Homo sapiens: one gene and its partners. The protein of the gene in region 3 purifies or fractionates together with the protein of the main gene of each other region. This does not show direct contact. Each region holds a gene or a part of one and is shown on either strand. Other genes may lie near its edges.

Evidence for each region.
Region 1: the proteins of DCAF4L2 (region 3) and CLUH purify together in Homo sapiens (affinity purification with mass spectrometry; 4 studies listed by BioGRID and IntAct, with this or other methods). This does not show direct contact.
Region 2: the proteins of DCAF4L2 (region 3) and CUL4B purify together in Homo sapiens (affinity purification with mass spectrometry; 4 studies listed by BioGRID and IntAct, with this or other methods). This does not show direct contact.
Region 4: the proteins of DCAF4L2 (region 3) and CCT6B purify together in Homo sapiens (affinity purification with mass spectrometry; 2 studies listed by BioGRID and IntAct, with this or other methods). This does not show direct contact.

What each region holds. Positions count from the first base shown.
Region 1 is NC_000017.11:2,708,317-2,716,771, forward strand, and holds the start of CLUH (clustered mitochondria protein homolog), read right to left. Parts: upstream 3,449-8,455; 5' UTR 3,346-3,448; coding exon 3,246-3,345; intron 2,938-3,245; exon of another isoform or gene 2,737-2,937; intron 201-2,736; exon of another isoform or gene 183-200; intron 1-182. UniProt on the Homo sapiens protein: mRNA-binding protein involved in proper cytoplasmic distribution of mitochondria.
Region 2 is NC_000023.11:120,549,987-120,557,962, reverse strand, and holds part of CUL4B (cullin-4B), read left to right. Parts: coding exon 1-39; intron 40-7,976.
Region 3 is NC_000008.11:87,870,733-87,879,184, forward strand, and holds DCAF4L2 (DDB1- and CUL4-associated factor 4-like protein 2), read right to left. Parts: upstream 3,284-8,452; 5' UTR 3,240-3,283; coding exon 2,052-3,239; 3' UTR 15-2,051; downstream 1-14.
Region 4 is NC_000017.11:34,957,865-34,965,655, reverse strand, and holds the start of CCT6B (T-complex protein 1 subunit zeta-2), read left to right. Parts: upstream 1-4,195; 5' UTR 4,196-4,262; coding exon 4,263-4,399; intron 4,400-6,005; coding exon 6,006-6,069; intron 6,070-6,961; coding exon 6,962-7,096; intron 7,097-7,791. Other genes in the region: ZNF830 (zinc finger protein 830), read right to left, coding at 2,971-4,089. UniProt on the Homo sapiens protein: Component of the chaperonin-containing T-complex (TRiC), a molecular chaperone complex that assists the folding of proteins upon ATP hydrolysis.

The DNA of each region.
Region 1 (8,455 bases), on a different chromosome or scaffold from region 3:
CTGCTCCTACCCTCTCCTGAAATACACCCTAACCCTCCGGAGAGAGGGGTGGGGCAGGGCAGCCTGGCAGTGACCCCAGAGAAGTGTTGACAACCACCTGCACTCTGATTACCACAGAGCCAGGACTCACGCTAGGCCCAGCCCACGGCAGCTCCCTAAACCGCCGTGCCAGCCCATCTCACCTGAGGAAACTGAGGCTCCAGAAGGCTAGGAAGCAGCTGCCCAAGGTCACAGAGGCAAGAGGAGCCAACCCAGAGCAAGAAAAAACCAGGTGTTACTATCACATTTGGGATTAAGTTTAAAAAAAAAAGGAAAGAAAAAACAGGAGTGTCAGACGCCCAAGCCCATGGCTTTTGAGTCACTCCCACTGAGCGCGGGCTACCCACCCGCTCCCACCGACCTGCTCCCGCCGACCCGCTCCCATGGACCCGCTCCCACTGACCCACTCCCACTCAGCGCAGCCCACCCACCCCCTCCCGAGGGGCCCGGCAGCACCCACAGGTAGGCTGCACCTGCCTCCTCGTCCAGGCCTCAGCCTCTACTCGGGGGGGGGGGAGCAGAACTATCCCAGTCACAGCACTCCCCAAGGCCTCTACACCCTTGGGCCAATACTCCCTCCTCTCATAGTCCAGGAGCACCTCTGAGGATGTGAGCTTTAGGGGAGGGGAAAAGGAGGTCTTCTGCAGAGCGGGAGAGCCGTGCCCCAACAGCACTCTGCATACACGCAAACTCAGATGCTAGTGAAGAGACAAAGCACACCCTTGCCCCGGCCTGGAGGCGCCGGGAGCTCAAAGGCGGCAGAGAGGAGGAACTAGAAAAGAAACTTAGGCCTCCCAGAGGACCTGTGTGCTGCCCAAGCCAGGCACAATCTCACTCAGAAGACTGTGCCAGGGCCAGGCCACGCCCCAGCCAAGGCCTCAGCAAGTGAGGCTCCAGCAGGAAGTAGGGTCCGAAAAGGTGCATCACCCGTCCCGGGAGCCCAGGGCTTCAGGGAAAGGCAATGGGGCGGGCAGGCGGCCTATGGAAGAACCTACAGACCAGGCACCTGTTTGCCTCCTTCCTGTCCCACCCAGGCCAGAGGCAGGCGTTCAGGGCCTGAGGACAGTTCAGAGTTCCTCAGGCTGCTCTCCCCACATCCCATCCAAGATCCTGTTGCGGAGCTCCCATAAGCCCCTAGACTCCTTCCCCAGCTGCCAGCCTCCTCCTCCTCCCCCTCTGGGCCTCAACTCCAGGGAGCCCTCCCCTGGGCAGAAGGAACCTGACGCACCACTGTGGACCTGAAAAACCTGCCTGTTCTCTTAACCCCTAAAAGCCGCTGTATTCCCAGGAAGGTAACCAACCCTTGCCCCCGACCCTCAATGGCCTAGATCAGCTCCTTCCTAAGGGGGCTGAAGAGCCTTCCAGAGCTGGATCTCAGAGGTCAGAAGCCTTGGTTCTGATGCTCAGGTGGGCCCCAGCTGGGGGGTCTTCATTAAGGCTCCTTCCTTCTTTCAATAGATCCGGGCTGGCTGTAACGTAAGTCCTAGCTAGCTGTACTACCTTCCCAGGGACGTAGGAGCCCATGTCCTGCCCACGAGTATGCTCCCAGTTTCCCCAAAACAAATAGCTGTGCCCTTCCCTGACTCAGTTTACCCCCGACAGAGCCCCCCCACCCCCAGCAGAGTTAGGAAGGGGCTTCACTGACTCCCTCACAGAAATCCTCCAACAGACGCTCGTCAGCCCCCTAGTTCTCAGCACGGGATCCAAACCAACACGCCTGTCCCAGCTTCCTCTGGGCCAGGCCACGGCAGCCTTGGCTTGCTGGCCATGAGCTGGAATCCAAACACTTCCCTTAACAGCTAAATCGCTGTGTGACCTTGGGCAAGTCACTTCGACTCTTCGGGTCTCTGCTAGAGGGGAAATCAGCCAACCTCCTCTCATCCAGCCTGCCCCCACTGATTCAGAGCCACATCAGCACAAAGCCTGGTAGGTTGGGGCGATGAGCATCTGCTCTTCTGCCCAAACCTTGGCCTTGTCTAGACAATCAGCAGTACTGCCCCAGCACCTGTCCCTCACCCCAAGGCAACTCCGCTATGATGGGAACAGGGTCAGAGGGCTGAACGCTGTCCCCATCCTGATTCCCAAGTCAGCCCTGGCGCACTCACTGAAGCTAGGAAGGGAGATGATGAGGCGTTAAGACCACAAGTCCCAACTGAGGACAGTCGACGGAGGAGGGAGGGACTGGGGGACAGGAGTAGCTCTGCACCTCCACTGCCACCCAGAGCAAAGAGGGCCTGAGGAAGATGACGACTGAGGGCCTGGGAAGGGGATTCCAGCCCCAAGGCTGGAGTCTGAGACACGGTGGAGGGAACAGAAGGAAGAGAAGGGGCTCAGGAGAAAGGGAAAGCAGGCCCCACCCGAGACAAGCTGCAGCCACTGCCACAGTCACCACCATACAGCCCCCATGGGGGATCGCTGGGAGCTTGACTCCACACTAACGACCTTTGCCTTAAAAACAGCAACTCTGGTCTGACCCACTTTTCGCAATAAGGCAGGTTAATGATCAAGTTCTGGCACAAACACTTCCCCCTGCCAAGGAGTTTGGCTCTGCCCCATGCAAAGGCAGACGCCCCCTACACCAGGTCGGCCGAGCAGGCCAACACACCTGAGAGTCTCCGCCACAGCCTGAAGACCTGCGGTTATAGCCTGGCCTCAGGGCATGAACCAGGGACGCCCCTCACAACGCACACCCCGCACCTCGTGCTCTTCCCACAAACCAAGCCTGGGAAGCCTCGAGCGGAGCTTCACTCCCAGGGCTGCAGCCCTGCGCACAGGGGATGCCTGGGAGGCCGCCGCGGAGCAGGTGCCGAAGGGGGCTGTCCCGCAAACGTCGGAGCGACCCCAGCTCAGAGAGCTCCCATGCTCGGGCGCAGAGGGGGTGGGGCCGCCGATTCTTTCGGTCTGCGGCGGCGGCGCACCCCGAAACCGCGTGTGCGCGCACGTGTCCCCGCGATGAGGCGCGCGTGTGCCCGCCGAGGGTGCCAGCCGAGGCTGCCCTCCACGGGACCGCACGTGCGAAACCCGGGCCGCAGCCGGGGGCGACTGTGAAGGTGACCTTCAGCGCGGGGGCGACCCGGTGAAGGCCCCAGCGAGATACAACCGGGCCCGACGCGGAGGGAAGGCGGCGATCCCCGCGGAGTCCCGAACCCGCCCGCCCTGGTCCGGCGCCCCCCGCCCAGCGGCCCGCTGGCCCTGGCCCCGCTCACCGGCCGCGCCCGGCCGCCCCTTGCCCCCGGCCTGCGAGCCGTGTTCCCGGGCGCTGTCGGCCGGGGCGGCCGCCGGCAACTCGTCCGTCTTGATAACCATGGTGGCGGGAGCGGGCGTCCGCCTCGGCTGTCCGCGCCGCCCGCCGCGCCACTAACCCAAGTGCCCTGCGCGCCGCGGCTGCTGAGGGAAGGACGGAGTCACCGGCCCACGTGGTGCGCGCCGTGGCCTTTGACCCCGCCGCCGTTTCCCTGCCCCACCCTCGCGCCCGGCCCAGCCCACGGCGGCCCGCGAGGGACAAAACGCGCCGCGCCTGGTTCCCCGCCCACGGACGCGGTGACTTTCCAGAACGTCTTAAAGGCAACGCACTCTGACTCAAGGCCCAGGGAGGCTGGGCGCCCTCGCGGGGCGGGGCCTCGGGGAGACTCCCTGCTGCTCGCTGCCCGTCGGGCGGGCACTGTGACCTTGGGTGGAGACTGGTCTGGTTCTGCCATGGCTAATCCTCCCCTCTCCAAGGATCCCCTGTTTTCTCTTGCAGATTTGCTAAATGACCGCGCAGTCTGTCATCTGCGGTGTTCGCGTGACCCTCAGCGCCCTCCCCACCCGGCAGGCCCTTTCCCGCCGAATGGGTGCGGCTGGATTATTGAGGGAGTGGAGGGTCGCTTAGGGCACGGGCACGAGAGGCGAGGGCGAGACGTGGCTAATGGGGATCAAGAGTCAGAATGGACCCGCCAAACTTTGCCCCGAGCCAGAACGGGCTCCCTACCCGCGTCCTCGACCCATGGGTCCTCACCTCCAGGCTGGTGTCCTCATTTTACAGTGGAGGAGGCCGAGACCAAGGTCACACAGAGAGCAAGGGGTAGAGCCGGGTCTGACTCCATCCACAGCCAGGACGCTTTAACTCGTATTTTTCACTTGGCAGGGGCTTGGCGGGGACGGAACGGTGAGGTCAGAGAATGCTGCAGAGGGGACATTGGGACCAGGTCTTGCAGTGAGTTGAAGTGCTCCAGGCAGAGAGCGCCGGTGGGTCTTTCCTGGCCAGGCCGCAGGGGGCCTTTGGGAAGCACCCGAGGCCTATAACCTTCGGAGCGTTTGTCAAGCTCTAATGAGAACTGGAAAGCTTCAGCTTCCCGAGGTGGGCTGGGAGGGCCTTAGGTAGGGCCTCGCACAAATTGCGAAGGAAAGCCGACCTTGTTCTGGAGAGCACGTGGTGAGGAAAGCCAGCGACTTGATGTGAGCATTTAAACGGGAGGAAGGAAGATGAGAACTGGTAAGATTCTTCTCGGCCGGGCGGTGCAGCGGCTCACGCCTGTAATCCTAGCACTTTGGGAGGCCGAAGCCAGGCGGATGACTTGAGTTCAGGATTCGGAAGTTTGAGACCAACCTGGGCAACATTTCAAAACCCCCGTCTCTACAAAAAATATTGTTTAAAAAAAGCCAGGTGTAGTGGCACGCGCCTGTAGTCCCAGCTACTTGGGAGCTGAGCTGGGAGTATCACTCAGGACGGCTCAGATTGAGCCCAGGAGTTCCAAGCTGCAGTGAGCTATGATCGCACCACTGCACTCCTGCCTGGGTGACACAGACACCGTCTCAAAAAAAAAAAAAAAAAAAAAGCCGGGCGCGGTGGCTCACGCCTGTAATTCCAGCACTTTGGGAGGCAGAGGCGGGCGGATCACGAGGTCAGGAATTAGAGACCAGCCTGGCCAAGATGGTGAAACCCCGTCTCTACTAAAAATACAAAAATTAGCTGCGCATGGTGGTGTGCGCCTGTAGTCCCAGCTACTCGGGTGGCTGAGGCAGAAGAATCGCTTGAACCCAGGAGGTGGAGGTTGCGGTGAGCCGAGATCGCGCCATTGCACTCCAGCTTGGGCAACAAGAGAGAAACTCCGTCTCAAAAAAAGAAAAAAAAAGTGTGCATATATATATATAGTGTGTGTATATATATATAGTGTGTATATATAGTGTGTATATATATAGTGTGTGTATATATATAGTGTGTATATATATAAGTGTATATATAAAATATATATATTTATAATCAATATATATAAAAGTGTGTATATATGTGTGTATATATACACATACATACTTATGTGTGCGTGTGTATATACGTATGTGTATACACACACTCGTTCCTCTTTTGTTACACAAATGTGCAGAAAATTGTACCTGCTATTCTTCACTCTGATTTTTTTTTTACACGCTTTCAGTAGGTGTTCTCATTCCATTTACGCTGGATAATGTTGTATTGTTTGGTTGTACCATAATTCTTTTAGCCGGTCACCTGACTGATGGGTACTTAGTTTGTATTCATGAAACTCCAGGGTTTTTGAGAATTGTGCCTAGTGGCCCAGTGCAGCTGAAGTTGGAAGCCCGTGCATGTTGCTAATGCTACTCATAATAGGAAGCTCAGTTTTAACCCTGGGGGTTGGGGAAGAGCAGCAAGCCTGGGGTTAGAGAAACAGACACGTATAAAAAGCATCATCCAGCCGAGTGCGGCGGCTCACGCCTGTAATGCCAACACTTTGAGAGGCCGAGGAGAGCAGATTGTATGAGCTCAGGAGTTGGACACCAGCCTGGGCAATATGGCAAAACCTCATCTCTACAAAAAATACAAAAATTAGCTGGGTGTGGTGGTGTGCGCCTATAGTCCCTGCTACTCAGGAGGCTGAGGTAGGAGGATCACTTGAGCCCAAGAGGTTGAGGCTGCAGGATCTCGCCACTGCACTCCAGCCTGGGCGACAGAGCAAGACCCTGTCTCAAAAAAAAAAAGAAAGCAAAGAAAGAAAAGAAAAGAAAAAAAAATCATCCTCTGATCACATTCTCCATAGTCTGGTGGTCTGACCTCTGACCACACATTAAGCAGACTGATTCTTGCTTTCACACAGCTTCCACCAAAGTCTTTTCATCATAGTCTTTTTTTGGGACAGCATCTCGCTGTGTAGCTCACGTTGGAGAACAGTGGCAAGATCTCAGCTCATTGCAACCCCGCCTCCCGGGTTCAAGCGATTCTCCTGCCTCAGCCTCCCTTGTAGCTGGGACTACAGGCGCCCGCCACCATGCCCGACTAATTTTTGTATTTTTAGTAGAGAGGGGGTTTCACCATGTTGGCCAGGCTGGTCTTGAACTCCTGACCTCAGGTGACCTGCCCACCTTGGCCTCCCATAGTGCTGGGATTACAGGCGTGAGCCACCGCACCCGGCCTCCATCATAGTCTTAACAGCACATACTCCCATTTTCCCCAGCTATTTCCACCATTGCCTATAACAATGTGCTATGGTTAAGGTGATCGCATAGTTTATCATTAAAACCAGAACACTTTTGAGAGTGCAAGTGGAACCTATTAATAATGACACAGGGGCAATAGGCATAAATTGAGACCCTCTTGGCCATACTGGGATGTCTGGGTCTTGGGTGAGGAGTCCAGCTGCTAGACCCGGGGACTTTGTTATTTTTTATTTTTTTTTGATATGGAGTCTTGCTCTGTCGCCCAGGCTGGAGTGCAGTGACGTGATCTCAGCTCATTGCAACCTCTACCTCCCGGATTCAAGTGATTCCCTGCCTCAGCCTCCCAAGTAGTTGGGATTACAGGCATGCGTCACCATGCCCGGCTCATTTTTGTATTTTTAGTAGAGATGGGGTTTCACCATGTTGGTCAGGCTGGCCTCGAACTTCTGACCTCGTGATCCGCCCGCCTTGGCCTCCCAAAGTGCTGGGATTACAGGCATGAGCCACCGCGCCTGGCCGACCTGGGGACTTCTTGAAGGCAAGAACCATAACTTATTTATCTGGGTGTTCCCAGCATCTTTCCAGAGCCCAATGCATGGTAGGTGTTTAATGCACATTTATTTATTTTTAATTTTATTTTTAGAGACAGGGTCTCATTCTGTTGCCCAGGCTGGAGTGCAGTGGCATGATCACGGCTCACGGAAGCCTCCAACTTATGGGCTCAAGTGACCCTCCCGTCTCAGTTCCCTGAGTAGCTGGGATTACAGGTGCACACGACCATACCCCACTTAATGCACATTTGTTGACTGAGTGAATGATTTCAGTGTAGAAGGTGCCAGGCCCTGAGGGCTCCACAGGATGTGGGGGGGCAGCATTGCTGGCAGCCTGGGGTTTCACCTTTGAGCCCCCCATTATTTATTTATTTATTTATTTTTTGAGACGGAGTTTTGCTCTTGTTGCCCAGGTTGGAGTGCAATGGCTCAATCTTGGCTGACCACAACCTCTGCCTCCCAGGTTCAAGCAATTCTCCTGCCTCAGCCTCCCCAGTAGCTGGGATTACAGGCATGCGCCACCAGGCCTGGCAAATTTTGTATTTTTAGTAGAGATGGGTTTTAGTAGGGTTTTAGTAGAGTTTAGTAGGGTTTTAGTAGAGATGGGTTTAGTAGAGGTGGTTTCTCTATGTCGGTCAGGCTGGTCTCGAACACCCGACCTCAGGTGGTCTGCCGCCTTGGCCTCCCAAAGTGCTGGGATTACAGGCGTGAGCCACTGTGCCTGGCTGAGTCCCCCATTATTTATAACAGTTGGCTTTCCTTTCAGACACTCCTTTTGTGTACTGTATGCTTTGACCTTTGTGTCTAGAACTTCAGATCATTTCCATAATGCCTGACTGAGACCCACCAGCCTGAGCCCACGGAGGATGCCAAGCGGAGGCACCTCTCCCTATCCTCCTCAGGGTCAGTGAGCGTCCGTAAGTGCCTACCGGTCAGCATGGGGATCGGTGACCAGTTTGTCCATGGGCCTAGTGACGAACCAGTCCCAGCAGCTTTAGAATCTGCAGTTTAAGGCCGGGCGCAGTGGCTCACGCCTGTAATACCAGCACTTTGGGGGCCAAGGCAGGTGGATCACCTGAGGTCAGGAGTTCAAGACCAGCCTGGACAACATGGCAAAACCCTGTCTCTACTAAAACTACAAAAATTAACCTGGTGAGGTGGCGGGTGCCTGTAATCCCAGCTACTTGGGAGCTGAGGGAGGAGAATCACTTGAACCCAGGAGGCGGAGGTTGCAGTGAGCCAAGATCATGCCACTGCACTCTAGCCTAGGTGACAGAGCAAGACTCCGCCTCAAAAAACAAAAACAAACAAATAAAATAATCTGCAGTTTATCTTTGGTGGATCCCTTCCCCTTTCCCTCGCAGGGTCCTGTTGCACAGCAGGCGTCCTTAGGGCTACCTCATGGCACTCCTGAGCACTGCAGTTTTCCTATC
Region 2 (7,976 bases), on a different chromosome or scaffold from region 3:
AGTACTTCAATTAAGTACAATTTAGAAGAACTCTACCAGGTATGTATTAATATGCATAACCAGATTTGATTAACATAAATTGAGGTGGGATGTATATGGATTTTGCTTTCTGAAATAGGTTCTTAAGTAGACTTTTGGTTCCCTTCTAATTTTAGTTTCTCCATTAATTGATGAACTCTATAATTAGACCACGTATTCTCACATAAACCATGGGTACAGTCATACCAGTATAAGTTGTGCTTATATTTGACCCTCCTGATAAGAAATTACAGTTACGTGTACCTTGGTGTAATAGAAGTTCTACCTATAATGTAATCCTATAGCATGAATCCCAAAGATGATTTCTGGTGACATGTCATTCTATTGTGATAATTGTTTCTTAGTTGTGTTACCTACCCATAGGAAAGGCCTCAAGACATGCAGATATTATTCATATCCTTTATTCTACCTCCTTCTTAATAGTAGACTTTGCCATTTCTTTTTCTTGCTCTTTACATTTTTCTAATACCTGGGCTACAAGACGCACCTTAGCCCAGAAATGAGTAGCAGTTTGTAGTCCAGCAGCTTAGTCTGAGGTTCAGATTCTTTACTTAGCAAATGGGTCCTTACACTTAAATATAATTTTAAGGGCAGTTCCTAAGGGCAATCCCTTGCTACCAAGAAATTTTTCCCTACTGTGTATTTGACACACAACCAATTCAAGAAGTTACTTTCATTAGAGTGTCAGGGATTTGGTGTTAAAAGATACTTCAGGCCGGGCACGGTGGCTCACACCTGTAATCCCAGCACTTTGGGAGGCCAAGGCTGGCAGATCACCTGAGGTCAGGAGTTCGAGACCAGCCTGACCAACATGGAGAAACCCCGTCTCTACTAAAAATACAAAATTAGCCAGGCAATGTGGTGCATGCCTGTAATCCCAGCTACTCAGGAGGCTGAGGCAGGAGAATCGCTTGAACCCAGGAGGTAGAGGTTGCGGTGAGCCGAGATTGCACCATTGCACTCCAGCCTGGGCAACAAGAGTGAAACTCCATCTCAAAAAAAAAAAAAAATATATATATACTTCAGAGTACAATAGCTTGAATTTTTGTATTGATGAGTACCTTGTAAGAAATTATGTTGGTTTTATTTATCAGTATTTGTATATTTTAGTTGCAGAGCTAGTATGGTGATGGGTAAACCTGGATTAGGAGTCAGAAGATGGGTTTGGGATCTAGTTTTGACTGCTGTTACCCTCATAATCTTGGGCCAGGTACTAAAGCCCTCTCAGTTTTTTTTCCTGTTTTTTTAAGAGATAGGGGTCTTGCTATGTTGCCCAGGCTGGTCTTGAACTCCAGGGCTACAGCAGTCTTGTCACCTCAACCTCCCAAGGTGCTGAGATTACAGGCATGAGCTACCAAACCCAGCCGTCACTCTCAATTTAAATTTCCTCCTCTCTAAAGTAGAGGAAATAATAGTTTGCCCTACCTGTCTCACAAGGTTGCTGATAAGAATCAAATAAGATATTTGTGGAAAACGCCTCCAGGCACTATAATCTTACAAATATAAGATGGTATCACGAGTCAAACTTTTTTACAAGCCACATTATAGCTTCTTCACTTGTAGTATGACAATTGAGATCACCAGTTTCTGTTGCTGTGAAAATTAGTACACGCAAAATACTCAAATCAGTGCACAACACATAGTAATAATGCCGTGTAACATTATAAGCATTATAATGCTATGCAAATGTCGGCTAGTAGTTGTAGTACTAAGCTATTACTTAAGAATAAGCCCATTTCATATGGCTCTTTTGGCGTATTATATATGCGTCTCTTAAAATGTACAACAATAAAAGCCAAAATATGAAACTGACTTGGAAAGGCCTTAAGAGAGCATGTGGTCCAATATTTTTTCTTTGTGGTGTCCATGACAGCCTGCAAAGGGGATTCATCTCGTATTATCTCATATAAGCATTATGGAAACCCTTTCTGGGGTACGTAGGGTAGTAGTTACTATCCCCACTTTTTTTTTTTTTTTTTTTTGAGATGGAGTCTTGCTATGTCACTCAGGCTGGAGTGCAGTGGCGTGATCTCGGCTCACTGCAACCTCCACCTCCCGGGCTCAAGTGATCCTCTTGCCTCAGCTTCCCAAGTAGGTGGAATTACAGGCGCCTGCCACCACGCCCTGCTAGTTTTTGTATTTTTAGTAGAGACAGGGTTTCACCATGTTGGCCGGGCTGATCTCGAACTCCTGACCTCAAGTGATCCACCCGCCTCCACCTCCCAAGGTGCTGGGATTACAGGTGTGAGCCACCGCGCCTGGCCTATCCCCACTTTATTGATGAGGAGACTGAGTCTCAGAGAAGTTGAATAACCTGCCCAGAGTCACATATTGGCAGAGCAGGGGCAACTCAAACTGAGATGCTGGATTTCTAGTTCATTGCACTTTTACTCCTGTACCACCTCACTAATATACCCTGGTACTTTGAATACCACTGTAGTGCAGTGTTTGAAACAATTAAATTGTTTTACTTTAGGGAAAAAGCTCTTTATAATTTTAGTAGTATTTTTATCTGTGCATGCATAAGTGGTGTTTATTTGGATAGTATATGGTGTTTATTTGGATATGCTGGTATACAGCATATTTAATTTCAATAATATTTTATATATTCCATATTTGTAACAAATGTTTATTGTGGTTATTAATTAACCCTATTTACTTTACCTTGAATATTTTTCCAGAGCTTTTGATTTGAAAATACTTTTCCTGATACATTGATTCTGTTAAATCTTTTTCTTTCAAGAGCATAGAGCTTGCATCTCTTGTTTTTGTTTTCTTGTACTTCGTAAGTTTTACCTGCTGTTGTTCAGTTGCATTTCTTTAGCCTAGTCACAAGTCTTATAACTTCACTGTTTGCATTTTTCATAATACCTTACTGCTTTTGCTATAATGAATTCAAAAGCATTGGTTTTTAGCTCTTTTACTGTTTTTGACCTTAATTTTATAAATGTTCCTTTGGATTGTTCTCAGAAAGATTATTTTGAGATGTTCAAGTTCAAACAGGAGGATAAAGGAGGTAAAGCTATTTCATATAATCTGGACTTCAGGTGCTTGTTTGATTTTGACTCATTGAAACGTAATTAGAAGTACTCTCTCAATCTACCTGAGTGGGAAATAAAAACATAAGAAAAAGTACTCTTCTAAAATTGAAATAATGTGGAAATATGTAGTTATACAAAAGTTCTCCAAACCCCTGTCCCACCCTCTTTCTCTGAGGTAAACACTTACTGGCATATATCTGCTTAGAACTTACTTCTGCATGAAAAAACATTTTGCTTTAAAGCTTTAAGTATGGAAGTCCCTAGTGTGGGTTGCATGTACTGCCTACTAAGTTTTTAATTTCTATAAAAGAACATGCTGTTCTAAGTACACTTGCAGTAAGCAAACATTGTCTTTTTAAAGTAATTTTAAATTAGAATTGGACCTGAGTTTTAAAATTATCTTTCCTTGACAACCTTGAGATCCTGTGGGTGTGAGGCAGTGATTAATGTTTTCATTTGACTGTTTTGTTTGTTTGCGTGCTTGTTTTTAATTGACTGCAAATAAGACTGATTAAATGCACTGACTTTTGAGCTGTCCAGCCTGCCTTAGGTTACAAATCTGTCACTCATCATATAACTTTGGGCGAGTTACTTCTCTAAGTCTTGGTTTCCTCATTTACAAGATGGTGAGACTAACGGCTACCTATATGGTAGGGTTTTTTAGACGTAAATGAAATATTGCAAAAAAGTAATTATCACAGTTCCTGCTATATATTGGTATGTGTCATCAATGATAGTAGATATTTGAGTCTTTAGAAAAGAAATCTTTATTTTAAAATTACATTTTATTTTAGAGCTCTGAAGCCACACGATTTTAAATTCTAAATCTACACTGGGCCAGAGCAGCTGTCTGATAAATAGATTACATTCCAAATGTGCTTCAGTAGACACCATTAGCGAAATTGAAAAAATAATAGAAAAAGACAGGAACTCTCTAGGAACAGTGTCCCTCTACGCTTAAAAAGAATGTGTCTTGTTTTCACATGTGGTATCATACAGTTGGAATTTTGGTTTTGGTGTGAGTTTTTTTACTATTAATAAGTAATATTTTAAATAGGATTATTTTCATAATCCTATTATGAGCTCATGTTCTCAACTTTTGTATGAGTAGCCGCAGTGTTTTGTTTTGTTTTGTTTAAATAGAGATATGGGGGTCTTGCTATGTTGCCCAGGCTGTTCTCGAACTCCTGGCCTCAAGCAGTCATCCCGCCTTGGCCTCCCAAAGTGCCAGGCTTACAGGCATGAACCACCATGTCTGGCCTACTACAGTGTTTAAGATCAGCTACCTTTTTTGGAGATGCTGGAAGTTTGTACAGGAGCGTGTAACATTTATCTTTCCTATAAATCTCTAGCTATTTTTAAAGTCAAGCCTAGGCCATACTTCAATTCTGATGAAAATAATTTTATTTATTATTAATAATGGGAACTGTAGTTACCTTTTTGTGAAATAAACCTTAAATGATGAACCTTTCTATTAACGATTCATTTATAGAGTAGATGACCACAGGACTAGAATCAAATAGTATAGGTTATTATCAATTGTAAAATCTGGTTGCTTAAGCAGTCAGTGATTATTAAGAAAGCAGTTAGATTCTTAGCATTGTTGATGACTAGCTGTTGGAGTCTGTGTAACTTTTGTCACCCTGTTGATGTCTTAAAGCTTAGTCTATTATGTATTATGTATTTCTCTTTTTACTGAATCGTTAATCAGTACTATTGTTGCTGTTTTTTAAAATGTACAACTAAAATTCTACTCTTTGTTATTTTGAAATATACAATAGATTATTAAATAATAAAAAATTTTAAAATGTGCACTTACAAATTCTTAGTCCTTGATAATTTTCAGTCTTATTTAAGTCCTGTTTACTGGAAGTAAAAAGAAAAGGAGTTTAGGTTTCATTGTATAGTTGGTTTCCTTTAAACAGATTCTTAGTTTTTGAATACTTAGAGTATCTTAGCCATATTTACTTGACATAAAAAGAGAGATAATGTAGATCTTATTGCTATATCAGTTGTTGAATTTTTTGTTATGTGCTTTACTTACTATCTGTAAACATAGCTCGAAAACTAAGACTCCACTCCTTAGACCAGTGACCAGAGTTCAACACCCTGGTGGAAATTCAGTATCTTTTTTATTGTCTGTTGTTCAGTAAATATTTGCATATGTCATTTGCTACACGTTTATATATATTTTTTGACTGTGTTTTTTTTTCAGACACTTTTTTTTAGCTCATCCTTGTGAAGAAAGACACATTTTTTATGTATCCTGTGGATTTTGGAGGGGAAGGGCTGGGATTTGGAAGAATAAGGGTTAGAAGCTTGCTAGAATGCCTGTATTTTATACCTAAGTACCTTCAAAGGATTTAAGGCAGCATATTTACTGGTAATTAGTGGGAGCTTAAATAAAAAGATAGTTTTATTAAAAAGACTTGTAAGGCTGGGTGCGGTGGCTGACGCCTGAAATCCCAACACTTTGGGAGGCCAAGGTGGGCGGATCACCTGAGGTCAGGCATTCAAGACCAGCTTGGCCAACATGGTGAAACCCAGTCTCTACCAAAAATACAAAATTCAGCCAGGTGTGGTGGCACGTGTCTGTAATCCGAGCTACTGGGAAGGCTAAGGCATGAGAATCGGTTGAACCCAGGAGGCAGAGGTTGCAGTTATCTAGAATCTGTTTATTACAAATAGTTGTTTGTGAGGCAAGAGGTTACTTCCAGAGATTCCCAAAGTGTTTTATTAGTGTAAATAATAAATACGTAATGCATAATATGTAAAAATACATAAATAATACATAATATTTAAATAAAACAATGCATAATATGTAAAAATACATAAATAATAAATACATAATATTTAAAAGAATATATTTGTAAAAGTGCTTTTCAAAGATCTAGAGTAAAATAGAGCTTATCTCAAACACCTTCTTATTCCTGTTTCCATCCCAGCATGTAATAGGATGAAGAGTACTTAGTAAACAGTCATTCCTTGTTCAATCCATGACTGCTTACTGTGTCCAAAACTGGACTGATACCTTGGGGTTATGGAAAGCACTTAGTACTAGTAAGAGAGCATAAGTACCTACCCTAAGTTACTTATGTTCTAATAGGTTCATGAAATTAATAGTTCGTGACCAGCATTTTTTAAAAAGAAATGAAATAGCAAATATCAGAATGCATCACATAGAGTAATGATGTGTAGGTTCGTGAAGATTTTATTTTAGTTACATAAATTTATGTATGATGGATTGTGACATTAGATTTCCTACTGTGGCTTTGGGTCAAAACATTTTGGAAGCCACTGTTTTACAGACACCACTCCAAATCTTGCCTAAAGGTGAGAAAAGTAGAGTACTTGGATCAAAGGATGTGTGAAAGGTTATAATCGGGTGGCCAAGGTGGCTCATGCATGTAATCCAGCACTTTGGGAGGCTGAGGTGAACAGTTCACTTGAAGTCAGGAGTTCGAGACTAGCCTGGCCAACATGGTAAAACCCCATCTCTACTAAAAATGCAAAAAAACCTAGCTGAGTGTGGCGGCGCATGCTTGTAATCCCAGCTACTTGAGAGGCTGAAACAGGAGAACCACTGGAACCTGGAGGCAGAGGTTGCACTGAGCCAAGATTGCACCCCAATCTGGGCGACAGAGCAAGACTCCATCTAAAAAAAAAAGAAAAAAGAAAAGTTATAATCAGACATGAGATGAAAGTGGTAAGATTTGCCTTGAACACCATGCTAAAAAGTATGGTGGTGGGGAAGTTAGAAAGGCTTTTATTGGGGAAGGCAAGTATTTAAGTTTTTTGAATACCTGATATATTCCTCTGGTTCAAAGCCCCGAAAGTATTGCAGAGCATGTAGTGAGAAGTCTCACTTCCACCCCATCCTCCAGTCCCCTAGTTAGTTCTCTTTGTGACAGACATTATTAGTTTTTTGGGTATCTTTCCAGAGATGTTTTATATACGTAAAACGACTGTGTATGTTTTTATTTTGTTCCTTTTTTACATAAATGATAGCAGACCATGTACCGGATAGTTCTTTTTGTTTGTTTATTTATACCTATTACGAGATTGCTCCATCACAGTACAGGAAAAGCTTGATGGAAGGTTGTTGAGGAAGGAAAATGACTAGATCCGGTCTATAGGTTAAGCAGTCAAGGCTAAATTAGAAAAACAGAATGTTCCCTCCGAACTTGACCTCAAAACTCACCTTAGATGCTCCTGCCTTTCTTGCCTTAAAGTTCTTAAACCACCCTCCAGCCAAACACAGGTGAGACTCTGTGCTGTAAAGCCCAGCTTAATTCTCGATTTCTCACTATTTCCACTAACTTTTTATCTGTTTCCCTGTGGGTCTTTGGGACTCTGTCCCTTTACCTCTTCCCAGGAAGGCTTTTCTGACTTGCCCTCCCCTAAATGCTGGGTTAGGGGCCTCATCTCTCTGCTTATCCTCATCATAGCATCTAGCACACTCAATCGTAATTACACGTTTTCTGGCAACTTTTCTCATACTAGAAGCCCTTTCTATGTGCAGGACACATTGCTAGAGTTTTTTTTGAATACTTCATGTATTCACTTGGTTCAAAGCTCAAAAAGTATTAAAGAACTTATAGATAGATGAACACACAATGTCTTTCTGTCATTAAGGAGTCAGAGAGACAAGATATACACATAAAAAGATAAGTAGTTTTGTGTAAGAAGTGTCCAGTGGTTGGGAGATAAATAGTGTTGACTCAATGACTAAGTCAGTGTGGTATGATGGGTGCGAGTGCCATGTGAGTCACTGGTAGCTGAGTCAATTAAGAAGAACTTATTGGAAGAAGTGGGACCTAATTGAGTAGTAAGGGAATATGGTATCTTGTGTGAGAAGATAAGTAGATGTGCCGAGAACTGTTTTATTTGAGAAGG
Region 3 (8,452 bases):
TACATAATCATTGCTTTATTTGCACTTATTTTATTTGCAAGTGAGGGTAAACAGATTCGCAAGTTACGTAGTCATTACATTTTCTTTTGTCAACTGCCCATAGCTGCTTTTGGACTTTTTTAAAAAAAATTACATCCGCAGCTAGTTCTTATTGAATGCTTACAATGTAAAAGGGACAATGTATACATCCTTTAAACCAATATCTACTTTATGATTTAGTTTTATTATCTAAGACATTTTACAAAGAAATAACAAGTACAGCTTACACAGTTTCCCCTGTCACACATCAAGTATCAAAAACTAATTTAACTGATTTCAAAAATCTATGCACCTAACCACTCTTTTGTATCTTCTCTATTGACCTATTCCTCTATCAATATGTAATATTACATTAACCTCATTTATGTCCTGACATCACCTCTAATCTACAGAATGGACATTTTAATAGTTGCCTAAAACTCAGCATTATTCTCTTCACCTAAAATTTTTTCACCTCAAATCCTCCCCATTTTAGTAAATGACACCAACCATCCACCAGTCCTAAAGTTAACAAAAAAGCTGCAATCTTTATGCTGTCTTTCACTTTCTAGATTACTCTCATCAGCAAATCTTACTAATACTACCTTCGAATGATCTTCCAATGCAATCATTTCTGATTTTTCTGATTATTTCTACTTCTCATAGTCAGGTCCAAGCCACAATCATTCCCTTTCCTGACCAACCTACAACAGTGTACTGTTTTCATATTTTTATTTTTGAGGTATTATATAAAGTGTGAAGTGTATAGACATACAAAATATGTATGTATCAAGGATCAAGAAAAAGAAAACAGCATTTCTAAAGTTTCCCCGTGTTACTTTCCAAACAATATCCTAAAAATAAAAGGGAAAAAAACAAACAATATCCTTTCTTCCTTCCACAGAGATACCTACTATTCAAACTGTAATCACCATAGATAAGTTTTTAGTGCTTTGGAACTTTAGAACTGAATCAGTTTGTACTCATTTCTACCTACATTTACAATCAACATGTTGAGATTAATCCACAGTTTCATATAGCAATTGTGCCTTATTTTATATTATGCTTTATCCAATTGTATGACTACAGCACAAATTATTTATCAATTTTAGCATATTGTAAAGTGAGATCATTTCCAGGCTTTGGCTATTAAGAAGTAGCCACTAACTTTATTACACGTTTTTTTGTTTTTTGTTTTTTTTGTCTTTTCTAGCTTATTGTTGGTAGAAAAACAGGCTAACACTTTGAATAAACATCTCACAAACTGCTGCTCCTAGATTACAAAAAGTCAAAGCCAATTATCTTTGACACTGAGCCCTTGAATCCTGACATTCAAGTCACAATAATAGAAACCGGAGCTGCTGTACCTTACATTCTGGAAGATGCCTCAACAAAAGCACGTTAAGGACTGTTTAAAACTTCTATTATTTAAAAAGATCCACCTTTCCTCCCATTGCCTATGGAAAATAATAAAAGGAGAATCTCAGAGATCTGCTATTGAGTTTGAGAAGGCCAAGTTTAATGATTCCAAAATGTAGCCTTAAAAACTTCTGGAGAGACTCAGATAAATGACCTCCCCCTCCTCTCCTCTCCCACTGGCCTCTTCAAGTACAGATGATGCATGTATTTCCGGAACCCAGGTAGGACTAGTCAAACAGTCTCATGCTTCTCTAAAAGGCTTCTGGTGTAAGCAGTTTTAATTTATTTTAGTTTTTGCCAATCTTCAGTCCTTAGAAAAGTGTTTTTTTGTTAAAAAAAAAAAAAAAGGGGGGGATAACTATTCTAAGGTATTCAACAAGAAAAGGAAATAGTTATCTTTTATGAAAAGGACTTTCAAGCTCTCTCAGCCCAGTTTAACTGAAACAACTTTACAGAACTATCTTCACATAAAACAGCACCTTACCCCTAGCAGCCGGATGGATGGGATCTACAAACACCGAACATCTCTTAAAATGCGCTCATAGAAACGGTAATACGATGCTCTTTACTTCTTTAAGTCAAATCCACGTTCCTCCGGGCTGCATCCTGAAGAATTAACCGTAGGAGAAACAATAAAGGTCCTCCCGGACAGCCATGAGCAGCCCTGGTGCTCCTCGGAAGCCCCCGAGGCGAGAAGAGAAGGCCACACTGGGAATGTCGTTCTCCGAGGCGGGGTATGGGGAGGGTATGGTTGTGAGCAGGTGGCCATGACGGAGGCTCCAGATTCTCGTGTAGCAGTCCTGGCCCACGGCCGCCACGACTCCTTCTTCTTCGTTCACATGCACGGGTAGGTAGGCGGAGTTATTCACATGACCTTCGTACTGTGTTACACATTTAGTGGCCCTCAAGTCCCACAGCTTGATAGTTCCAGTCATGTCTGATGACACCAGGAATTGGCCATCTTGGAGGATTTGCAGAGAAGTCACTGCTGAATCATGGGACAGGCAAATGGCCTTCCACCCGCTGCCTTGATTTCCACAGCGCAGATCAATGCCAAAGATCTCCCCAGAGCGACAGCCATTAAACAGCAAAGGAGTCATGATTGCAAACTGCTGGGCCAAGACATCACTGCTAGTCCCAAATGACTGCTGGTGTCCCGTCACCACGTTGGTCAACAGGACCTGCTGAGACAAGCCTGTACTGAAAGAGTGATACGCGTGGATGCTCAGGGACCAGGCACAGGACCAGGCATCAGGGATCTGGAAACTGCAAAGCATGCCAGGCCGACGCATTCCTGGGAAGCTACCTATGAACAGCGACGCTGGGAGCAGCACGGCACAGCTTGGAGTATCTGCAAGTCCCACGAAGCACAGCAGAAGGTGGGAATCCAAGTGATTCAGTGAGGCCCAGCACATAGAATTCACCTTCCGATTAGGGACGTAGAGGGTTTTGTGCGGGTATACCCGGAGCTCAGGGGTCGTCAGGCCTCGCATGGTGATGATGCCGTACTTGGAGCCTCCAGCTTCGACTTGGTTCACTGTGAAGAGCTGGTCAGTGTTGGTATTCGCCAGTATGCGGTTAAATCGGTCGCTTGCCAAAGAGGAGGGATCCCAGCTATGAATCTGGACCTTTTTCCTCTGCATGCAGCTTACACGCAGCTCGCGAGCTATACGGCAATAGTTGGCGAATCTGAGGAAACCTAGCTGGTTCTTTCGTAGCATGGAAGGTGCATTGAGTCCCACTCTGACTGTCTTTTTCTGCTTGTCTGCTTCCTCGAGCAGTCGCGGTCTTTTGCTCTCCATTTCGTTCGGCGGATGTTCTCCCTCCTGAGGGGAAGTTCTGTCCCGGGAGTAAGAGGAAGTACCGCTTCTTTACAAGCACGACTTGGCACGGAAGAACTTCCCGCTGCGCCTGCGCCTGTGCGTATGAGGTCGACCCGGACGAGATTCTTCGTCGCCTTGGCCCAAATCCCGAATGCTCTGAGGTGCCCTGACATAACTCTCGTTAGAATCGCGTGATCTGAAACAAGAGTTCCGCTGCTTCTCTCGAGTTTTCCCCTACTCAGACAGCTGCTTTTATTCATTTCTATTCCTGTTTAGAGATTCTTTTCCGACCCCTCTTACACACGTCATAATAGCTGTATGCATACATTTCTCTTATTTACTAAGAAGTGAAATTGGCCCAGCACTTTGGGAGGCCGAGGTGGGCGTATTACGAGGTCAGGAGTTCGAGACCAGCCTGGCCAATATGGTGAAACCCTGTCTCTACTAAAAATACAAAAATGAGCCGGGCATGGTGGCGCGCGCCTGTAGTCCCAGCTACTCGGGAGGCTAAAGCAGAAGAATCGCTTGAACGCAGGAGGCGAAGGTTGCAGTGAGCCGAGATAGCCCCACTGCACTTCAGCCTGGGCGACAAAGGGAGACACCGTCTCAAAAAAAAAAAATTTGAAAGTGGAGGGTTATTAGGTAGACATATATAGCTTAAGTAGATATTGACAAACCAATTACACTCTTGTCAAAATATGGCTTAAGTAGATATTGACAAACCAATTACACTCTTGTCAAAAGTGTATATATATCCTTGCCAATTCTTGTTGGTCAGTTTACATTTTAGATATAAATAATTTATAATTGTTTTTGTCTTCCTGTTGAAAGATTGCCATTATTATTATAAAATATTCCTTTTTAACTTTTATTTATTGATTGACTTTATTTTATTTTTGTGAGATGGAGTCGCGCTCTGTCGCCCAGGCTGGACTGCAGTGGCGTGATCTCGATTCACTGCAAGCTCCGCCTCCCGGGTTCACGCCATTCTCCTGCCTCAGCCTCCTGAGTAGCTGAGACTACAGGCGCCTGCCACCATGCCTGGCTAATTTTTTGTATTTTTAGTAGGGATGGAGTTTCACCATGTTAGCCAGGATGGTCTTGATATCCTGACCTTGTGATCCACCTGCCTTGGCCTCCCAAAGTGCTGGGATTACAGGCATGAGCCACTGCGCCCGACCAACTTTTATTTATTTTATTTTATTTTATTTTATTTTATTTTACTTTATTTTATTTTTTGAGACGGAGTCTCGCTCGTCACCCAGGCTGGAGTGCAATGGCTCTATCTCAGCTCGCTGCAAGCTCCACCTCCCGGGTTCAGGCCATTCTCCTGCCTCAGCCTCCCAAGTAGCTGGGACTACAGGCTCCGCCACCATGCCCGGCTAATTTTTTTGTATTTTTGGTAGAGATGGGGTTTCACCATCTTAGCCAGAATGGTCTCGATCTCCTGATCTGGTGATACACCCGCCTCAGCCTCCCAAAGTGCTGGGATTACAGGCTTGAGCCACCGCGCCTGGCCCAACTTTAATTTTTTTAAATCTGTGTTCTCTGATATTAAAGTATCCTTATCCTTAAACCCTTCTTGTCTAATATTTATATATGCAACCAAGATTTCTGGTTGATAGTGTTTGCTGTACCTTTTCTCACCTTTTACTTTCAACTTAAATTTGTTCTATTATGTAAATGGGTTCATATAAACAATACATTGCTGGTAAGTTTTTATCCAGTATAATAATTTTTACCTTTGAATGTGAGTGTCTAGGCAATTTAATGTTTTAACTAACCCCTTTAAAAATTCTTGAACAGTCTTAGATTTACAGGGAAATTACAAAGATAGTATAGAGCCTTCCCACATACTCTGCACCCAGTTTCCATATTATTAACATTTTACGCTAGAATGATAAATACATTGCACTAATAAACCAATATTGATACTTTATTAACTGAAGTCCATATTTTATTCATATTTCCTTAGTTTTTATCCAGTGGCCTGTTCCTGTTCAAGGATCCCATCCATGATATAATATTAATTATGTTCCCTTGTGCTTCTCTTGGCCATGACCTTTTCTTAGATTTTCCTTACTTTTTATATACATGACAGCATTGAGGCATATTGGTCACATATCTTATAGATGTCTCTCAATAGAGAGTTGTCTGATGTTTTTCCCATATTAACACTGGGATTTTATGTTTTTGGAAGAAGACAACAGAGGAAAATGCCATCCCATTAAGGGTGCAGACTATGGACATGACTTATTGTCATTGATGTTAACTTTGGTCACCTGAATAAGGTAGTGTTTCTTGGGTTTCTCCACTGTATGCTGTAAACATCTCCCTCTCTTTTCATACTGTACCCTTTGAAAGGAAGTAGCTTTGCATATCTATCACTTTAGGAGTAGGGATTTATGCTTTAGTTTCTTGAGGGCAGAACATGCACATCAATTATTAGGAATTATTCTATAAGGGAGATTTTTCTAGGTGTGTCTTTATTAATCTATCCATTTATTTATATAGTATGGCCTCTTGAATATTTATTTTATACTTCATTTATTTATTTGCTAAAATTGTTCCAGCTTTGGCTATTGAGAGCTCTTATGGCTCCTGTGATTGACTGCCTATAGTTAACTGCATGGTTAGCTGTACTCTAAAAGCTTGAGACCACTTGACACCAGAGCCCTTATCTTAGACTTAAATATGTGATTAAAAATTATAATCATTTTCTTACAGCTTTGATTTTGATGTACTGTATATTGCATCATTCCAAAAAAATAGACTTTGGATGTGGAAATATTTGAAGAAGAAATTGAGATTTTTTTTTAATGATAACAATTTGTATTAATAATATCTGAGAACTACCATATATTCTTAGGATTTGTAGAATCCCCAGGTAGGGTATCAAGAAGTAGAAGTAAAAGCCTTAACCATTAAATATATTTTTTTCTTGTAAATTTTTTATTTTTTTATTTCAATAGTTTTGGGGGAACAGGTGGTGTTTGGTTACATGAATAAGTTCTTTAGCGGTGATTTCTGGAATTTTGGTGCACCCATCATCTGAGCAGTGTACACTGTCCCCAGTGTATAGTCTTTTGTCCCTCGCCACCTTTGATTTTGATTTACTATATATTTTGTCATTCCAAAAAATAGATTTTGGATGTGGAAATATTTGAAGAAGAAATGGAGATTTCTAAAAACCAAACAGACACACCCACATAACTTTTGGAATGGCAAAAAAAAAAAAATGGTGATAATATGGAGTAACGCAAACTCTCATTGCTGGTAAGGATATAAAATGGTACAGCCACCTTGGAAAACAGTTTGGCAGTTTCTTAGAAAACTAAACATATTCTCACCATATGATCCAGCAATCATGCTCCTTCATATTTACCCAAAGGAATTGAAAATTTGTATTCACACAAAAACATCCACACGGATGTTTACAGCAACTTTATTCATAATTGCCAAAACTTAGAAGCAAACAAGATGTCCTTCAGTAGATGGAAGGATAAATAACAGTAGTACATCCAGGCAATGGAATATTATTCAGCACTAAAAATAAATGAGTTATGAAACCATGAAAAGACATGGAGAAAAGTTAAATGAATATTACCAAGTGAAAGAAGCCAATCTGAAAAGGCTAAATACTGTAAGATTCCAACTACATGACATTCTGTAAATGGAGAAACTATGGAGGTAGTAAAAAGGTCAGTGATTGCTAGCAATTAGAGGGCATATAAGAGAAAAGTATTTTTCTTATCTTGGTATAAAGCACAAATATAAAATGTTTATAGGGTATGAGGAGACTAACAATATCTTCTGAAGAATTATGGACAGCAGAGTCATTAATATTTGAAAATATCATTGAGGAACATCAGAATCCCTTTATAAATTTTTTCTACTTAATACTGAAACCAGAAAAGCATAGATCTTTTAAAATCTAGATATTTACTTAATTATGATGTTTATTTTTAATGAGGTGTTCTGAGTGTTAAAGGTGGTTTTAATTGTATTATCAGTCAGGCTGCAGGGAAAAAAAAACCTGGAACCTCACTTAATTTCTGCCAAAACACTGTCTTCAATTTTATAAGCTAATAATTTAGGAGAAGGGATGATAATCCTTATATGAAACAACACAGTTGCTTGAGTAGCCCGCCATTCATTTATCCTTGGCAAGACAAGGCAGGCTTCATAATCTTAAAAACTCATTTGAATGTACTGAATGAGCATCAAATTGCTTTAAGCGGGCTGTCCTGTTACAGCATAGATATATGAGCTTTCAGCTGTGTCCTTTATCCTGAGATACAGTTTGAACTGTCTTTGAAGAAATGTCCTTTTCTAATAAAACTTAAGTCCAAACTTACATTTCATTGTTCTCTTTCTCACATAATGTACTTTCTTTTAATATAATTCTAGCAGATGGATAGCATTTTTGTTATATTAATATCAATGAGTATGTTCATATAAACACATAAATAAAAATTTATAAGCATACACCTAAAGCCCAAAAGAAGAAAGGTAATTCATAAGATAAATATAAAATCCTGTGTGAGTGACTGCCTTCATTTAGCCAAAAAACATAACATGAAGAGTTGAATATATCGAAAGCTTAGATTGAGATTATATTTTGGCAGCATTAAATATATGCACCAGAATGTACACATTTTGTATATTGACTAAATAACCCTTGAATATTTTACTCAATCTAGAATTCTTTTTCTCATCTTGAGTATACTAAAATTGCTCTTATTGTCTATACTTGATTTTTGGTCAAAATATGAATCACTGTGACCTAGAAGAAAGAGAATTTTTTTTTTTTCAGATGGCGTCTCACTCTGTTGCCCAGGCTGGAGTTCAGTGGCACCACCTCAGCTCACTGCAACGTCTGCCTCCCGGGTTCAAGCGATTCTCCTGCTGCAGCCTCCAGAGTAGCTGGGATTACAGGTGCCTGCCACCATGCCCAGCTAATTTTTGTATTTTTAGTAGAGATGGCATTTCACCATGTTGGCCAGGCTGGTCTTGAACTCCTGACTTCAGGTGATCCTCCTGCCTCAGCCTCCCAAAGTGCTGAGATTACAGGCATGAGCCACTGCGCCTGTCCAGAAGAAAAGAGATTTAATTTTGAATCAAGAGACTCAATTTTGAATTCTACATCTGTCATTTAGTATTGGTAAAACATAACACAAGTAAATTTCTAT
Region 4 (7,791 bases), on a different chromosome or scaffold from region 3:
CACTTCTTTGACTGTGTTACAATTAAGGACTCAATTTACAAGGATAAATTGTTAACTTAGAAAGTTCAAATTCCTTAGAGCTTGGCATTCAAGCTCCTCCACATGTTCCTAATCTACCTTTTCAATCATAATTCCCACTGTTGCCAGGACTGAACCCTCTGCTCTAGTTAAATTGGATGCTCACTACCTCCTGAGCATGTTTATCTTTTCACCTGGATACCTTACTCTTTAGATCTACGCTGTTCTTTATAGTAGCCACTAGTCACATATGGCTATCGAGTACTTGAAGTGTGGCCAGTCTAAACTGAGATGTGCTGTTAGATACACCTAGATTTCAAAAATGTAGTAAAAATAATCAATCTTTAAATATTACATATTGGAACATTAATATTCTGGACATAGATGAAATAAAACACATTAAAACTACTTTCACTTCTTTTTACTTTGGCTACTAGAAAATGTAAAATTTATCTATGGCTTGCATTATATTTTATTTTTTTACTTTTTGAGACAGGGTCACACTGTCACCCATGAGGGAGTGCAGTGGCACAATCACAGCTCACTGCAACCGCCACCTTCCCTGGCACAGGTGATCCTCCCACCTCAGCATCCCAAGCAGCTGGGACTACAGGTGAATGCCACACCTGGATTATTTGTTTATATTTTTTGTAGAGATGGGGTTTTGCCATGTTGCCCAGGCTGGTCTTGAACTTCTGAGCTCAAGTGATCCACCTGCCTCGGATTCCCAAAGTGCTAGGATTACAGGCATGAGCCACCACACCCAGTCGCATTTTATCTTTAGTGGACAGTACTCCACTAGATTGTTGGCCAAGGCAGTACTGGGCCCACCATTCAAACCCATATTTGTACTTTCTTGCTAGAGTAATAGTGATGAATGAAGGGAAAATTCTGAGTAACACTGGGTTCACACATTTGAGGCAAGCAAGCCGTGTCTCATCAAATAGAAGCTGCTATCACTGATCAGCTAGCAGCTCAAGGAGGAAGACTGCCAAAGGCAGCAGGACAATTATTAATAATAATTTGTGGTACACAGCAACTGTTCAGTAAGTGTTAGATAACTCCTTTTAGGCAGTGACACTAAATACAAACAAAATCTTGAATCCCATACTTATCCCTCCTGTTTTTCTTCTTCCACTTCTAGTCACTAAAATTTAGCTATTCTGGCCGGGCGTGGTGGCTCACGCCTGTAATCCCAGCACTTTGGGAGGCCGAGGTGGGCAGATCACGAGGTCGGGAGATTGAGACCATCCTGGCTAACACGGTGAAACCCCGTCTCTACTAAAAAATACAAAAAATTAGCTTGGCGTGGTGGCGGGTGCCTGTAGTCCCGGCTACTCGCGAGGCTGAAGCAGGAGAACGGCGTGAACCTGGGAGGTGGAGCTTGCAGTGAGCCGAGTTTCCGCCACTGCACTCCAGACTGGGCGACAGACCGAGACTCCGTCTCAAAACAAACAAACAAAAAAAACAAACAACAAAAGAATTTAGCTATTCCTATGACATGCTTTCACTTCTATTCCTTTTCTCCCAATCCTCAGCTAATCAGTCTTGTCACCTTGCTTTTGAAAATATAGTTTTCAAATAGCTCCTAGCTTCCTTCTACCCTCCGTGTTCATTCCATTCTATATACTGTTAATAATGTCCCATGATACTTCTTTGCAGATGTAATTCTTTGCTCAAAACCTCCATTTTCATATGAACTTCATCAAAAATTTTCACTTAGCATTCAAGGCTTTTCAAACCTTGTCTCTTGGTACTCCTCTCCATAAAAAAAGACTTTAGGGAAACTAGATTGAGTTAATATATGTAAAGCACTTAGAACCATGCCTGGCCCATACTAAGAAATATATAGGTCTTAGCTATTATTATTATTGCTCACTTTTATTTGAATATGCTGTATGCATTTCAACTCCAGAACACTGCTAATTCCCTTTTCCTATTTGAGTACCTCAATCTCTAAAGGAAGGAGTGATTTAAACTATCAATGACCAGCAAGAGCCAATTGTTACTGCTGGAAAGACAACTTAAATATTCTTTCTACAATAGATAGGACCTGCAAACAAGGAACCCTAATTTACCACCAAATAACAAAATTTAAGGCTGGATGAAATAAATAAAAGATAATATTTTTTCCTTCATTCAAGAAACAGCAAATTTATGGAATGTGTTATTTAAAGAAAAAGAAAAAACCTGAAAAACATAAATGGGTTCTGGATTTAGGGCAGTTACTCTCTAACCCTGGCATATATTAGAATAACCTGGGTGCTTAAAAAACACAGTTGCCTGGGCCCAATCCCAGATTTATTGAAGGGGAAGGCCTCAGACACTTTAATTATTTTAATGCTTCATAGGTGACTCTCATGTGCAACCACATCTGACCATCATTGGTTTGGTCATGTTTGGCATATAGTTTTCTTATGTTTTTAAAATAAAGCACACTAAGAGAACTGATTAACCTACAATGACTTATGTGTTTATGAAGTGTTCTAAAAAACCATACAAAAACCAAAGAAACAAGAAAACAAACCTTTTCAACTTGATGTAGGGTTCAGAAGATACATACATTCCAAATACCACAGTAAGCATTCATCTGAAAGTTTGCCGGTTGGTCTTTCTATTAATTAAAAAAATTCAAAACAGAATACAGATTTAACTATGTACAATATTTACAACTTACAGATTTTACAACGAAATTATACAGTTAAGTCTGTCGTGGAAATGTTGGCATTTTGGTATATAACACTTCAGAAATTTCAAAAACAACTTTACCTCAAAAACATGTTACACAAATTTTCCAAAGTGCTGTAGCTCACTGGCTCATTTTATCTCAACAATCCAGTTTAGCAATCCAGGTACCCAAATCTTGAGGCATGAAGTAACCGCTATACTACTGAGAGACAGCACTTTTTATACAACAGCAGAGGCTGTTAGAAACCTTGGGTCTTTAAAACCCTATAACAATGCCCCTTTCACCCTCCAATCCTGAGACAACAAATCCTGTAGTTCCCCCTCATCATCGCTGTCAGCATTCTCTTCTTCCTTTTTCTGCAGTTCTTTTATGGTCAGGATTTCTTTAAGTTTATTTTTTATTTCATCCTGGCGATTCCGTAGCTTTTCCACCCGTCGGTAACACTCTATCTGCTCATCGATCTCCCCAATCTGGCGGTCCAACCGTCCCTCCTCATCCTCTTCGGCAACTATGGCTTCGGAAATAGTGTTGACCTGCCTCATGGCTTTTTGGAATTCGTCCCACTCTTTGTCCATCTGATCTTTTGGAGCATCAACCTTTCGTACTCTTGCATCTACCTCAGGGTCGTCAAAAAAACCTTCCGGTAACGCTTCCGCGGTGTTTTCTCTCCTTTCCACCACTTTTTCATGTATTTCTGCTTTCTCAATTGACCCTGAATGAGGAATTATGGGGGCCTTGGGAGGATTAGTACTAAAGAAATCGTTTGGCAGCACACTACTTGTTACCTCCCGTGAAGAGGAAACTGAGTGCTCCTTGCCCTGTGCGTCGGAGAGCGGCTTGCTGGCGTCCCCCCTTTTTCTTTCTCCATCTCCTTCCTCCTCCTCTTCCTCCTCCTCCTCATCTTCATAATCGGGGAGTAAACTGAGTCCTGAAGGCTTACTGGGAGTCGCTCTAATGAACTCCTTTCCTATTTTGTCAAAGTTGGTGGTCCACGCAGATGTGGAGGGCTGTACCTGAGGCACCAAGGTGGCCTTCGCTCTCTTGACATCTTGGTCGTCTGCGTCCGGCGCTTTCCTCTTGACGGAATGAGGCGCTGAACTGGCGGACGAACCCTGGCTGGCTTCCTTCGCGCCTTTCAGCTCGGCCACTTTCTCTCGGTGCTGCTTTCCCAGGACGTGAGTCTGCCACAGGAGCTCGCTCTTAACCGGAGTGTTACACAGGGCACAACTCAGCTGCCCCAAACGGTTGTACTTCGCGAATGGAGATTCTATCCGTTTCCGACTGGTGCTCAGACGCTGCTTCTCCTTCATTAACCGCCGCAATTCTTCCTGATTTATCACTCGCTTCCCTGCCGGAGTCCGGGCGGAGGCGGAGGACGCCATCTTGGCGACCAGACCCAAAACGATTCTGGTTTCCGTCGGGCGAGGCATGATAACGTCACTTCCTGTAAGGGCGATGATTGGCCGAGGCTCAAGAGAGCGTGGCGTCGCATTGCCGTTTTTGCTCAGAATCGCGACTAAGGCTTTTTTTTTTTCTCCCTCTGAACGGTTAGGCTATGGCTGCGATAAAGGCCGTCAACTCCAAGGCTGAGGTGGCGCGGGCCCGGGCAGCTTTGGCTGTCAATATATGCGCCGCCCGAGGGCTGCAGGATGTGCTGCGGACCAACTTGGGTCCTAAAGGCACCATGAAAATGTGAGACAGCGGTTGGAGCGGCCATTACGCGGCTAGGGGCCCGTTGGTGTCCTGTCGCCCTCTGAGGCAGGCGTCCGCGTAGCGCTGTGGATGTTCTTGCGAGCTTGATTTCCCTCATTCTCATCCCTGCTCTGGGGGTATTTCTCGCCTGGTGCAGGTGGAGGAGAAAAGCCTCCCCTAGTAGAGGGCCCCGGGAGTGAAGCTGTGGCGCTTCCCCGACCCCCGACTTGTCGTCAAGGTTCATATGCAGTTAGAAAGTCAGTTAATTTAGTGTCTCATTGGAAACAAAGCATTTAACTCCTCTGCTCCTTAAGACTGTATACCCTTGGTCCATAAATTCAACAAGTAGTTTTGTTTTTTGTATGGCAATGTATTGTAGTGGAGAGGACACAGGCTTTGGAGCCAGGAAGGCATGGGGTCAAATCCAAGTTCTACTTGAATACCCCGTGTCTATGGTTGTTCAGATCTATTCATCTTTTCAGTATATATTAAGCACCCTTTTCTATAGACAAGAGTGAGGAAAAGAGACCAGTGAGGGCAAAAGGGTATAAGAGGAGAGACACATCCTCATAGTAATGAACAAAATAATATTAATGGTAAAATAAGTCACTTAGGTACCAGTTGTTGGGACACAGAAATGATCAAGATAACGGTTTCTGTTCTTAAGGAGATGTGGTAGAGACGGATGTGGTAGAGTAGGATGTGCTAATTATATATAGATGCATATAATTATGCTGAAGAAAGGGACTGATGGCAGAAGGAAAAGCATCTTAAGTAACATGTTTGATCAGTCTTGAAAGAAGAATAAGACTTCACTAGTTGGAAGAGGGAGTAAAGGCCTGGGCAAAGTAATTTCAGGAATAAGAAAGACCAATGGTGCAAATCCAACAGAAACGAAACAAAACATGGTATATTAAGGGAACCAGAAGATTTGCTTGTGGAAAAGTAGATGAGGCAGGGAAGATATTGGGAAAGGTCAAGTATGTCATTGCTGTGTTTGGATTTTAACTTGAAAATGATGGAAAACATAAAAATCATTGGAGGACTTTTGATCAGGGAACTGACTGAATCACGTTGCCTTTTAGAAAGAAAAATGTGTGGAGGGTATATTTAAGTTTGGAGATATCCGGATGCCATCCAAAGTAGAGATGATAACAGTGGAGATGGAGAGAAGGTGGCAGATTCAAGAGATATTTAGGTAGTAGAATTGATAGAACTTGGTGATCTAATAAATGCAGGGATGAGGGAAACTAAGTTGAGTGACTGAATGAATGAAAACATTCACCAAAATTAAAACCTGCAGGAAATTTGCGAATTTGTGCTTTGTAGACTTCCAAGTATTCTTTGACCAAACCACAGTTCGTAACTCATCAAGTGCTTTTATCTTTAAACCTGTAAATAGTCCATTTGGAATGAAATCTCCATAATCTGTCCATCTGGGGAGAAATGATTCTGTGAGCTGCAAATGGTGGTAATTACCATGGCATATTCCCATGGTACAGTGGAAGTTTTCCGAGCCCAGTTCCCTCTATTAAGGATAATGGAGTGGCAAGCACTGGGAATGTCTTCCTACCACATGAAGTTAATATCATTCTTCTCTGAACAGGCTTGTTTCTGGTGCAGGTGACATCAAACTCACCAAAGATGGCAATGTGCTGCTCGATGAGATGGTGAGCTGATGCTGCTGACTTTAATAAACCTTAATAAGCCTTAATTAGAAGCATAGTAGAACTTGTGTATCTTTAAGCCAAGGCTGTGAGCTAAATACTGCAGTCTTGAGATATGCTGAAGACTGTTGAATTAGACCTCAATAAAAAAATTTTTTTGGCCGGGTGTGGTAGCTCACTCCTGTAATCCCAACACTTTGGGAGGCTGAGGTGGCCAAATTGCTTGAGCCCAGGAGTTCAAGACCAGGCTGGGCAACATGGTGAAAACCGTCTCTACAAAAAAAAAAAAAAAAAAAAATTTTGCTCAGTGTGGTGACATACGCCTATAGTCCCAGCTACTCTGGAGGCTGAGGTGAGAGGATCACTTGAGCCCAGGAGGCCAAGGCTGCAGTGAATGAGATTGTGCCATTGCACTCCAGCCTGAGTGGCAGAGTGAAACCCTGTCTCAAAAAAAAAAAAAAAAAAAGTTTTTTTTTTTGGCTGTTTCCAAGTCTTTGTATACTTATACATACTTTGTATACTTAGGCATACTTATAAATCAATAATATCTTTTAAGGGCACTGCCTTATGTTCTTTGTAATTATGGAAAAATAAAAATATCCTTTGCAAGTTTAATACATGTATTCATTTTGAGATTGAATGATTTAATCTTATTTTAGAAATGTCATTGCATTCTGAAGCAAAGACTTTTATGAAATGTTCAGGCCTCATTACCTGTCACTTTTAAAATTTTGGACTTGACATTTAGGTATTGATAATACAAAACTTGTAAACTTGTAGAATGAAGCTTATTTCATTTTTTAATTTTGCTACTGACCCCTAGGTTATCTTGCTTTTGGTGACCTACTTCCTTATCTCATCCTGTCTTTTTAAATCTGTTGCTTGCTTTTTCCAGCAAATTCAACATCCAACAGCTTCCTTGATAGCAAAAGTAGCAACAGCTCAGGATGACGTCACAGGAGATGGTACTACTTCAAATGTTCTAATTATTGGAGAGTTATTAAAACAAGCTGACCTGTACATTTCTGAGGTATTAGAATTTCACAGTTTATATGTTATTTTGAATGGCAAATTATTTTTTTAACTAGTAAAATGGTTGAGTTTTAGACAGTTAATTTTGTTTTAATTAATTAATTAATTAATTTTGAGATGGAGTCTCACTGTGTCGCCCAGGCTGGAGTGCAGTGGCAGAATCTTGGCTCACTGCAACCTCCGCCTCCCAGGTTCAATCAATTCTCCTGCTTCAGCTTCCCGAGTAGCTGGGATTACAGGCATGCGCCATCATGCCTGGCTAATGTTTGTATTTTTTTTAGAGACAGGGTTTCACCATCATGGCCAGCCTGGTCTTGAGCTCCTGACCTCAGGTGATCCACCTGCCTGGGCCTCCCAGAGTGCTGGGATTACAGGCATGAGCCACCGTGCCTGGTCTAGACAGTTAATTTTAATTAAGATATTCTTGGACAATTATAAATGGAAATAATAATGAACTTTGTTGGCCAAAATAATGCCTTTCGTTGGAATTATATACCTCTTTTAAAAATGAAATATTTAACGGACCTAAAAAAGTAAAAAATTACCCATGTATCCATGGGTAATTAAGAAAGAAAACACCATAGATAAAGTTGAAACCAAATTATGCACCTTTATAAAACCACTGGAGAAAAATTATTGAAGGTTTTACTTATTGTGAATTTACCTTCCTTTCTAGTTTCATTTTCTTTATAA